3 linked regions of the Homo sapiens genome follow. The protein of the gene in region 1 purifies or fractionates together with the protein of each later gene. This does not show direct contact. Each region holds a gene or a part of one and is shown in the gene's direction. Other genes may lie near its edges. The genes, in order: TMPRSS12, FAM234A and FZD6.

The links.
Region 2: the proteins of TMPRSS12 (region 1) and FAM234A purify together in Homo sapiens (affinity purification with mass spectrometry; one large-scale study listed by BioGRID and IntAct). This does not show direct contact.
Region 3: the proteins of TMPRSS12 (region 1) and FZD6 purify together in Homo sapiens (affinity purification with mass spectrometry; 2 studies listed by BioGRID and IntAct, with this or other methods). This does not show direct contact.

Annotation. Positions count from the first base shown.
Region 1 is NC_000012.12:50,841,309-50,845,058, forward strand, and holds the start of TMPRSS12 (transmembrane protease serine 12 precursor), read left to right. Parts: upstream 1-1,617; 5' UTR 1,618-1,656; coding exon 1,657-1,843; intron 1,844-2,533; coding exon 2,534-2,729; intron 2,730-3,750. UniProt on the Homo sapiens protein: Required for male fertility. Plays a critical role in sperm capacitation and acrosome reactions during fertilization, and also plays a role in the regulation of proteins involved in spermatogenesis.
Region 2 is NC_000016.10:258,804-262,453, forward strand, and holds part of FAM234A (protein FAM234A), read left to right. Parts: intron 1-679; coding exon 680-796; intron 797-1,165; coding exon 1,166-1,357; intron 1,358-2,580; coding exon 2,581-2,711; intron 2,712-3,289; coding exon 3,290-3,422; intron 3,423-3,620; coding exon 3,621-3,650.
Region 3 is NC_000008.11:103,297,378-103,301,127, forward strand, and holds the start of FZD6 (frizzled-6 isoform a precursor), read left to right. Parts: upstream 1-1,520; 5' UTR 1,521-1,618; intron 1,619-2,578; 5' UTR 2,579-2,730; coding exon 2,731-2,907; intron 2,908-3,750. UniProt on the Homo sapiens protein: Receptor for Wnt proteins.

The DNA of each region.
Region 1 (3,750 bases):
TACCAGGAGACAGGGTTCATTGGCGGGCATTTTGTAGGCTACCTACCATACCAGAGGATATTTGTCTGCAGATAGGAGTGATCCCACCAAAGACAGGAAATGACAATGCAGGAGAGGAGAAAAGGCAGAGGAAATCCAGGAAGAAGACCTCTGCAGTTATTGATCCACTGCCTTTTTCATTTTATTTGGAGAGATGGGGTCTTGCTTTGTTGCCCAGGCTGGAGTACTGTGGCTATTCACAGGCATGATCTCACTACCAATCAACACAGGAATTTTGATCAACTCCATTTCCAGTCTGGGCCAGTTACCCCTCCTTAGGCAACCTGGTGGTTCCCCACTACCCGAAGGTCACCATATTGATGCCAAACTTAGTTGACCAGTTGACATAGCATACTACAGTCCAGAACTCCTGGGCTCAAGCAATCCTCCTGCCTCAGCCTCCTGAGTAGTAAAACTAAAAAATATATTGTTTAAAGCAGTGCTGTATAATAGAACTACAGGCATGTGCCACCGTGCCCAGCCCACTGCCTGTGTCACTGCTATTTGATGACTTGGCTGCATATACTTGCTTTATGAGTATGTTAAACCTCTACTATCTGTCATAGCAAGACCCGTCATCCTTATCACGTTGGCTATGGGTTTAAAAAAAGAAAAAAAAAGTCATCTTGCCTTGTTTACAAAGGCATACACAATCTGACCACATCTCACACACACAGAAATACACACACCCCAACTGTGTTTTTCTCCTCCTAATATCACCTTCCACTAAAATATCTGGGGAATAAGGACTTTGTTTCTTGTCAGCCCTCAGAGATCAGCTCATGCTGCAATTTGTTTCTCCAATATCACCTCCTCCACCCCAATTTCGGCACAGCTCTGAGACTCTGCTCCCTTCCCCACATGTTACCATGTGTAAGCCCCAAACTCATATACTCCTTTTATCTAATGCTGCCAACTGCACCAGCCTCGGAAGGATGGTATGAGCAAGGCAACTGTCCTTTTATTGACCTCTACGTTAACTCTCCACCACCTCACCAACTTCCCACAGCCCACACGGTCTTCTTATTACTGAAGGTGTTGGGTTAACAAAGGCAAAGTTCAGTATAGGTCAAGATAGGAATGACAGAACAATTTAAAACTGAACATTAGGTATCACTCTTAAAAACTCTGGGTTATGTTAAAGAAAAATTATTCAGTGATACTCATTAAAGCACAGCAAGGCAGACTTTATTCAGGACCATCCAGATAGGGATAGGGACCATGGCAATGGGATTTTGTAATGGGTAGAGGGACTGGGCTAAAATCCAAACAGAGCAGAGCCAAGGGAGAATTTACAGCCACGGAGCAGGAGAGACGTGTCAGTGGATGGAAAATTACTAAGAGGTAGCATCAGGAGTAATGGCATTCCGGCTAACCGACCTAACAGGATTCTTGCTGGACAGGCCAGGGTGATCAGACATCACCTGGGGGATAGTGGTGGATGAGGAAGCCGATCAGACCTTGAGGGTGAGGGGTTCTTTCTAAACTGACCTACCTATTCCTCGGCCGCCTCCCACACCTCCGGGCCTCACTCGCGCCTCCCCGCCAGGCCGTGCGCCCCGCGTGCCCAGGGCGGGTGGGAAGTACCTGCCGCCATCTTGCTCACCAGCCTCCAAAATGCGGCTGGGGCTCCTGAGCGTGGCGCTGTTGTTTGTGGGGAGCTCTCACTTATACTCAGACCACTACTCGCCCTCTGGAAGGCACAGGCTCGGCCCCTCGCCGGAACCGGCGGCTAGTTCCCAGCAGGCTGAGGCCGTCCGCAAGAGGCTCCGGCGGCGGAGGGAGGGAGGGGCGCATGCAGAGGGCAGTACCTGTTCGTGCCTGTCTCTGGGGAGCCTCTCTTACCTTTTCCCCACCGCTATAGTCTTTGAATTCGGGTTTCTCCTTTTCTGTTGTCCCAATGGCCTTTAACCAAAATTTTACATACCTAAGCAGTTTCTAGACCGGCTGTAATAACAGTAGTTGTAATAGTGAAATGACACATTTGTATTGTGAATCTGTATTTTCTCCTCAAAACATTCTGGGTTTTATCATCCCCATTTTATAGATTAATAAGTCAGGGGATAAAGAGTTGAAAGGGAGGGCTATTAGGTGACCATTTCATACTATAGTTGAGAAAAATTAGCCCAACAAGTGAAATGGTGAGCATTAGAATTTGCGGCTCTCGACTCACCGTTCCCAGGCTCTTTAACTGCTATTTCACACAGGGAAGAATGTGATACGTGGCCAAAAATTTTTATTTTTATATTTTTGGGGAATAGAGTTTTAAAATTAATGAATTGTGTTGACTTCATGTCTATTTGTAAGTAATCGATTATGGCATATTTGTCTTAACTCTCCAAGTTTCTTTCAAAATATGGGCGTGTCTCCGGTATGTTAGCTTGCTTTGTGTTTTTAACATAGGAATTTAAAGGATTGCATTAATATGTTCAGCTTAGGAAGTAACACATACTATAGATGCTCAGTCCAAATAATATATCATTTTTATTTTTAGATTGTGGAACAGCACCGCTTAAGGATGTGTTGCAAGGGTCTCGGATTATAGGGGGCACCGAAGCACAAGCTGGCGCATGGCCGTGGGTGGTGAGCCTGCAGATTAAATATGGCCGTGTTCTTGTTCATGTATGTGGGGGAACCCTAGTGAGAGAGAGGTGGGTCCTCACAGCTGCCCACTGCACTAAAGACGCTAGGTACGTATTCAGAACACAACTATTTTTATGCTCTTAGGGGATATTTTGAAGTGATAGAGGACCATTTAACTTCAGCCATTTTCAGCTAAGCTATGTTTGCAAATAGCCATAATGCCTTATATATAGTACAGTGTATTTGTTGAAAGGAATCCTTTATTTATTATTATTATTATTATACTTTAAGTTCTGGGGTACATGTGCAGAACGTGCAGGTTTGTTACATAGGTATACATGTCCATGGTGGTTTGCTGCACCCATCAACCCATCATCTAACTACATTAGGTATTTCTCTTAATGCTATCCCTCCCCTAGCCCCCTACCCAGGAATCCTTTATTTTTTACTTTTTTTTTTTTGAAATGGAGTGTCACTCTGTTACCCAGGCTGGAGTGCAGTGGTGCAATCTTGGCTCACTGCAACCTCCGCCTCCTGGGTTCATGCGATTCTTCTGCCTCAGCCCCCGGAGTAGCTGGAATTACAGATGCCTGCCATCATGTCCAGCTAATTTTTGTATTTTTAGTAGAAAAGGGGGTTTCACCATGTTGGCCAGGCTGGTCTTGAACTCTTAACCTCACGTGATCTGCCCGCCTCAGCCTCCCAAAGTTCTGGGATTACAGGTGTAAGCCACCATGCTCGATCATGGATCTTTTAAATTAGAGGCTGGTAAACTTCCTATAAAGGTAGTAAATATTTTACACTTTGAAGGTCATATGGTCTCTCTCACAATTGCATGAAAACCAGCACTGAAAATAAGTAATTGAATGAGTGTGGCTATAATCCAATAAAACTTTATGAACACTGAAATCTGAATTTCATATGTTTAACGTGTCATGAAATATTGTGGTTGATTCAGCCATTTAAAAATGTAGAGTAGGGCATGTTGGCTCATATTTGTTATCCCAATGCTTTGGGAAGCCAAGACGGGAGGATCACTTGAGGCCAGGAGTTTGAGACCAGCCTGGGAAATATAGCGAGACCCTGTCTCTATATTTAAAAAAATTGTTAATGTAAAAAACATGCTTT
Region 2 (3,650 bases), on another chromosome or scaffold:
GATGGACTCCAGCTCTGTCGGCCAGGCTGGAGTGCAGTGGTGCAATCTCGCTCACTGCAACCTCTGCCTCCTGGGTTCAAACGATTCTTGTGCCTCAGCCTCCCGAGTAGCTGGGACTACAGGCACGTGCTACTACACCCAGCTAATTTTTTGTATTTTTAGTAGAGACAGGGTTTCACACGTTGGCCAAGATGGTCTCAATCTCTTGACCTCGTTATCTGCCCTCCTCGGCCTCCCAAAGTGCTGGGATTACAGGCGTGAGGCACCTTGCCCGGCCAACTTCACTCTTTTGGTGTTTGATTTTAGGGCATAAAGTTTATCACTTGAGTCCTTGAATGAAAGGAAGTGTAAACCCTGACGAGTATGGAGTGTGGACTGTCTAGATGCCCCCTGGTCTAGGGAGGGATTTATCCCTGAACAGAAGGTGCCAGAACATCCAATTCTTAATGCCCAGATGTCCTGCTTGTTCCTTTCTGAAGGTTAACACTAGGCATTGTTGCCCACCCCCTGGTTTTCACGAAGGAAATTACTCATCCTAGTGAGGAAGAAGCCACCGTCCTCGTTGGGTGCCCTCACAGTGGCAGGTTCCATGTAGCAGAGAAGTAGGTCGTGCTGGACCTGATCGTTCCTGGAAACCAGGCATGGCCCGCGGAGTATAGTCTGTGGTTTTCTCTTTCAGTTATCTATGACTTTCTGGCTGTGGATGATATAAACGGGGACAGGATCCAAGATGTTCTTTTTCTTTATAAAAACACCAACAGCAGCAACAATTTCAGCCGATCCTGTGTGGACGAAGGTAATTTCATTTTATATGAAAAAGGCGGAGCTCCCTGTAGAAAGAGGAATCGTCATTTTGGGTCACCCTCTCGCTTTCAGTGTTTGGGGGAAGCAGATGGTGGTGTTTCTGGAACCCATCTCGTCATCCTTCCTGGCAGACCAGAAAGAGGCCTGGAAGCCCAGTCCCAGCACTGCCCTGGCCCCTGAGCCCCGTGGGGTCAGCATTAGAGCCCCGGGAGCCTGCAAGATACAGGAGATCCACCTGGCGGGAGGGGCTGTGGCCTAGGAGAGGTGTGAGGAAAACAGACCTGGAACAGCACATGCTGGGGCTGGCCGGCCTGCCTGCCCAGATGGTGCAACAGTGAGGTGCCGGTGTCTCTCCCTACAGGCTTTTCCTCTCCCTGCACCTTTGCAGCTGCTGTGTCGGGGGCCAACGGCAGCACGCTCTGGGAGAGACCTGTGGCCCAAGACGTGGCCCTCGTGGAGTGTGCTGTGCCCCAGCCAAGAGGCAGTGAGGCACCTTCTGCCTGCATCCTGGTGGGCAGACCCAGTTCTTTCATTGCAGTCAACTTGTTCACAGGTAGGCCAGCCAGGCAGCGGGGTTCTCACTGAGGGCCTCTCACCTGAGCCACCTCACCCTGAGGGCTAATGCCAGGAGGCCGCGACGAGGCTCAGCCCTGTGATCTTGAGGGTGGCTGGATGGGAAGGAAGGTTATGGGGAGAACCTCCAAGTGAGGCTGCAAGCGTGTGGAAGGCACACGCCTCGGCTGCCTTCAGCTGCACTGTGTCTGTTACCTCCCGTTACACCTTGCTGGTGGGCTGTAACACACAGGGGCAGTCCGATGTCACCTGCCATGGGGTAGCAGAGAGGAGGAGCGGCTTGGCCCCCGGCTGCTCCTGGGGTGTCAGTGGTGGCAGTGCCCAGGGCGAGCCCAGAACATGAACCAGCACTCGGCCCGTCAGGGGAGATCGGGGCCTGTCAGTGCCCCTAAGCCTGAAGGTGCAGGTCTCCGAGCCCCAGCGGAGCCGGCCTCGTGGAAGGACGAGGGAAAGAATGCGTGGTGCACGGGGCCATGTGTGTGTGTGGGCTCCTTGCACCTCATCGCGGTCTGGAAGATTTCTGTGCCTAGATTTGGTGAATGTTCATATTTCCCTTACAAGCTGTCATTTTAAGGATATGGAGGAGAATAAAGAGCAGGCTGAAAATATTTTAAGAATCAAGGAATCTGTCTTTAAAAAAAGGTTTGGATGAGATTGTATGTGCGTAAGGAGTTGGACGAGGACCTGTGGTCAGTAGATCTGCCTCCGGGCGCACACCTCCATTCTTGCCTTCTATGTGGAGGGCAGATGAAGGGGCCACTCAGCTGGGGCCTGCATGGCACCAAGGGCACGCCTGCAACCCCAGCAGGAGGCAGGGGCTTCGAGAGGTGGGTGAGGTCAGGCTTCATCCACTCGGGCAGGAGGGTCAGCATGGGCCCTAGAGGTTCCAGGACACGCAGATAGGAGAAAAGGAAGGGGGAACTCTGCGGTTCCCAGGAATGAGGCTGTCAGCGTTTGGCATATTGCCACCGAGTCTCCATACACGGGCAGGACGTGTGTCCACCACCTCCGCGTGCTGCTCCTTCACGAGCACAGGAGTGCCGCCCTCCCCTCCTGTTGGCATCTGCTCTGAGTGTGCAGTGAGCCGTGGGCTCACGAGGGTGATGCCTCAACAGGAGCCTGCCTGTCACAGGCCTTGCAGTTGCCGGGCTGCTGTTGAAGGGGACTCAGGGCCACGTTCCGTGACCGTGTGCTTGATTCTAGGGGAAACCCTGTGGAACCACAGCAGCAGCTTCAGCGGGAATGCGTCCATCCTGAGCCCTCTGCTGCAGGTGCCTGATGTGGACGGCGATGGGGCCCCAGACCTGCTGGTTCTCACCCAGGAGCGGGAGGAGGTACATCCCAGCCTGGCTCTGCTCCCAAGTCACGAGGCCACCTGCCACACGGCCCTGCTCTACCTCCCCATCTGCTGCCACTTCCCAGACAGGATTCGGGTCTGACCACTTGCCGGGGACTCGCCCAGAGCCCCACGTTCCCAACTCCCATAGACCCAGCATACTCAGGGGGCTCCATCTCTACCAGGCAGCTTTGGGGCCTCCCCAAGAATGGTGGAGTACACACTTCCCATTTGTGCTGTTGCAGTGTTGGGGGTGAAGCTCTGAGGGCTGGGAGCACCTGTGAGGCACTGGGGCTGCCCTGCCTGCCTCATGTGCCCCGTGCAGTGTGGAGGCACCAACCATCGTGGCAGACTCTCTGATGTCAGCGTGTCTTTCCTCAAAACCAAGAGCCTGTGGGCCCCTTACCCTTCCACATCTCCCATTGTAGAGTGCCCCGCCCCCAGGCTCACGTCCCTCTCTTCCTGGGCCTTGTGTCATTGCAGCCCCAGGCTCAGGTCCTTCTCTTCCTGGGCCTTGTGTCCTTGCAGCCCCAGGCTCAGGTCCCTCTCTTCCTGTGTCATCCTGTGTCATTGCAGGTTAGTGGCCACCTCTACTCCGGCAGCACCGGGCACCAGATTGGCCTCAGAGGCAGCCTTGGTGTGGACGGGGAAAGTGGCTTCCTCCTTCACGTCACCAGGACAGGTGCCCACTACATCCTCTTTCCCTGCGGTACGTTGTTTCTGCCACATCCCTGGCCAGCCTCACTCGTGGAGCATGACTGCCCTGCGGCTCCTCAGGTCCTGCTTCTGCTCTCGAGGTGCTGGAGTCAGGAAGCCCAGGGGCCTGGCTCCATGTGGCACTGCGTGCCCCTGGTCCGGGTTCACAGCGTGACCCTGGTGACCTCGGGCCCTTCTGTGTTTTGAATAGCAAGCTCCCTCTGCGGCTGCTCTGTGAAGG
Region 3 (3,750 bases), on another chromosome or scaffold:
TCCAAATCCATCCTGACAAAAAAAAAATCATTCTAGTTCATCACTGCTCACTATATAATTAAATACAATGAAAAATAAAACAGGCTTTATTTACTTCTGTATAAATCAACTTACTACAATTTTTCCTTCCAAATAATGGAACAAGTATTCACTTGAATTTCAAAACTATCGTTTTCAAATGATACTTTAAAAGTATCGTTTTCAAACGATATTTTAAAAAGTATCGTTTTTAAATGATACTTTTAGTGATACTTCACTGCCTGGTAGTCACTAGAGCCTGATCACAAAAAGATCTCATTAAGTTCGTAGAAACTGGAGAGAAATAGTCTTCCAATGTAGAAAATTAGAAATTTAGGGGAAAATATTCTTCCTACATAGAAATTTATTCTGCAATACATCAACTATCCAGCTCTTAATGATGTTAATATTTCTTCATCACTACCTGTCTCCCAACATCAGTAAGCTTTTGATAAAACTGGGGAGGAATTCCCCACTCCAAATTCGTCTTTCCCCACAGATTCCAAAACTCTTACTCTGGTTGTTCAGGGTTGTCCTTCTAGGTATGGAAATATGACATTCCTTTTCTGCAACAGGATGATTTATCTGACAAGAATAGCCTCCATCTACAAGTTACTTTGCATTTTTCAAAGTACTTCTACAAGTTCATTTGCTTCTCATACTATTCTGCCTGTTTCATAGGAGGGCCTTACAGGTTAGGTGTAAACACTTGTAACGAACTTGGCACTATTTGACTTACAGCCAGTGCTCAATTAACGTTAACCATCATTACAACTATTGTCATTCCTATATTGTGAGGAAACTATGCCCCTTAAAGATTAGGGTAATTTATCTAATATCTATGACAGAGTTGGTACCCCAAACTAGGTTGATTTCTACAGCAGTTCAACTTCCTATTAGGGTTTGTATCAATAAAACTGTGGGACCCGCCAGGGCTGGAATCCCACTGCTACCTGAGCATCCAGTTGGTGACCAGGCTCCCCGAATTAATAAAAGTATTTGTTGTTGTTTTTATAGCAGTTGTCCAGGAAGTATCTCCTTTCGAACTCAAGTCACTTGGGCAATTGGCTTTACAAAGCAAATTGGCTCCGTTTAAGGATTCTTGACTCCTGAAATCCGCAAGGAAGTGGGTTCTTTTAGAGCCAGCGCCAAGAGCTTCAAAAAATCCTTCTAAGGTGAACCCCTCCGGACCCGGATAGCGAGATGGGGCTCAGCCTTGCGCCTCGGGGGTCGTAACAGACGGCAAGGTGGAGGTGGCTTCCCGGCCCCGCAGCCGGACCTCGGCACCCCGAGCCCGTTCACCGGGGCCGGGTCCTGGCGGGCCGCGGAGTGAGGCCGGGCGGCGCAGCGCAGGCGGTGCCCGGGCGCAGGGCCAGTCCCGCCGCCGCCGCCGCCGCCGCCGCCGCCGCCGCCGCGAGCCCGGACCTGCCCGCCCGACCTGGCGGCGCAGTCTCGCGGGATCGCTCAGCTCTCGCTCCCCGTGCGGCTCTCGAGGCAGCTCCAGTCCCGGACGCAACCCCGGAGCCGTCTCAGGTCCCTGGGGGGAACGGTGGGTTAGACGGGGACGGGAAGGGACAGCGGCCTTCGACCGCCCCCCGAGGTGAGGCTTCCACGGCTGGGACTGGGCAGGGGCCGGGCGGGTGCCGGGGGAAGCGGGGAGGGCCTCGAGGGGCGAGGGGCCGCGGCTGGGATGAGGCGCGCCGGGAGCCGCAGGTGCTGGGGAGGCAACGGCGGGACGGCCCGCACCTGAGTTTCCTCGGAAGCGGGAACCGGCTCTGAAAGGCGATGCCGGGGCCCCGCGGCGCCGCGCAGGCCAGGAACGCTGCTGTCTGGCTCTAGGCCTGGGGCAGGTTCCCGGGTGTGGGGCGCTGGCGGACCGGGCATCAGTGTGTGTTGGGGCGCGGGTAATTCGTAATCCGGGGCCTACAGCCTTCCTCCCGCAAGGGGACTGCCTTCGCCCTTCCCCCGGGACAGATTTGCGCACTTTCCTTTCGACGGCAGCACTACACCCTCCTAGCCAGTGAAAACTGCAATGTTGCTCCTCCACTGGAGGAATCCTAAAAGTCTCCCTCTAGTTGGCCTTACGAAAATCGAGAAAACTACATACCCAGAAGACTGCCACAAAAACTGACTCTTCAGAGTCTTTTACAAGTTTAAGAACTCTTTGGGTCTTAAGGAATTTCCCAGGGCCTTAGTTTTCTTGTACTTAATAAGCTTTCCAACAGGGGCCCTTAGATTGTATGCTTATATTAATCCTTTATAATTTACTCCGAATCACCAGCTTTCCTTTTTTCCTCCATCTTACTCTTGCCATTCCCTCTTTTTAACCCTGTCTTCCATACAGCACCAACCTCCTAGCATCGGTTTCCTAGAGGTGCAGCTTCCTTAGCAAATGATATATTCCATGCTAAGGCAGGTGGAAGAGTATCTCGTTAGGACAGAATTTTCCGTTGTTTTTCCAGTGTTTGTTACCTGGGGTGAAAATCTTAACTCTGCACTTTGACTCCACATTTGAGTTTATGACAAATGTTGCTGATACACCCTCCTTTTGTTTTTACAGTAATTGACCCAGGACTCATTTTCAGGAAAGCCTGAAAATGAGTAAAATAGTGAAATGAGGAATTTGAACATTTTATCTTTGGATGGGGATCTTCTGAGGATGCAAAGAGTGATTCATCCAAGCCATGTGGTAAAATCAGGAATTTGAAGAAAATGGAAATGTTTACATTTTTGTTGACGTGTATTTTTCTACCCCTCCTAAGAGGGCACAGTCTCTTCACCTGTGAACCAATTACTGTTCCCAGATGTATGAAAATGGCCTACAACATGACGTTTTTCCCTAATCTGATGGGTCATTATGACCAGAGTATTGCCGCGGTGGAAATGGAGGTGAGTAGTGCTTCATACGTTTATTGAATAGTAGTTTATGCTCTGTTCTAGAATAAACTAGTAAAAATAAGTCTATTTTTAAACAGAGCCGATTTCTTCAAGTTGTGTACAAGTTGTGTTTTGAAAAGTCCTTTTGAAAATTAAATCCCTCTACTGACTTATGTTTTGTGTACCTTTGCGGCCCTGTTTAGTAGATTCGTTTGAATAGGGTTCATTTTATATAATGAAGTATGGTTACACATGATTTCTAAATACCTTGTACCTAGAAAATATTTTGCTTTCCTGAATCAAGTATGATAGTTCTTCTAGAAATGCGAATTCTGAATATTTTTCTACTTCACTGAACATGTAATATTTATTGCCTGGACTAAAACTGAAGAAATTTACAAGTTTTTATAAGTAGTTGTAATATTCACTTGGTACAGTTTTTCTGAAATAAATAAATTATCAGAATATTTTGTTGCTGTAGACTGTATTTTAAGGCTATCACAAAGTCACTAAAAAGTGACTTTGTTTTCTAAGCATAGCACTTATATGTTCTTTATAAGATACTTGTTAAAAGAAACCACTTGGGAGGAGTACAGTGACACTAAAGATTGCCTTAGGTGCCTTAGTTACCTGTCTCTGGTTTAGAGATATGCAAATTACTAGGGAGTGTGAGAAGAAAGCTACCTGTACAGACAGGAACCTGCCTTCCCATACAGATTTGTTAGGTTGTTAAGTCTCCTGAAGGAAACTAGACACATGCATTGTTTTTGTAGTTTTTCTCCAGAAAAACAGAATAGTAAAGGCTTTTTTCCCTCAGATTGTTGCTAAGAGAGGAAATCCCTACAAATTTAATAT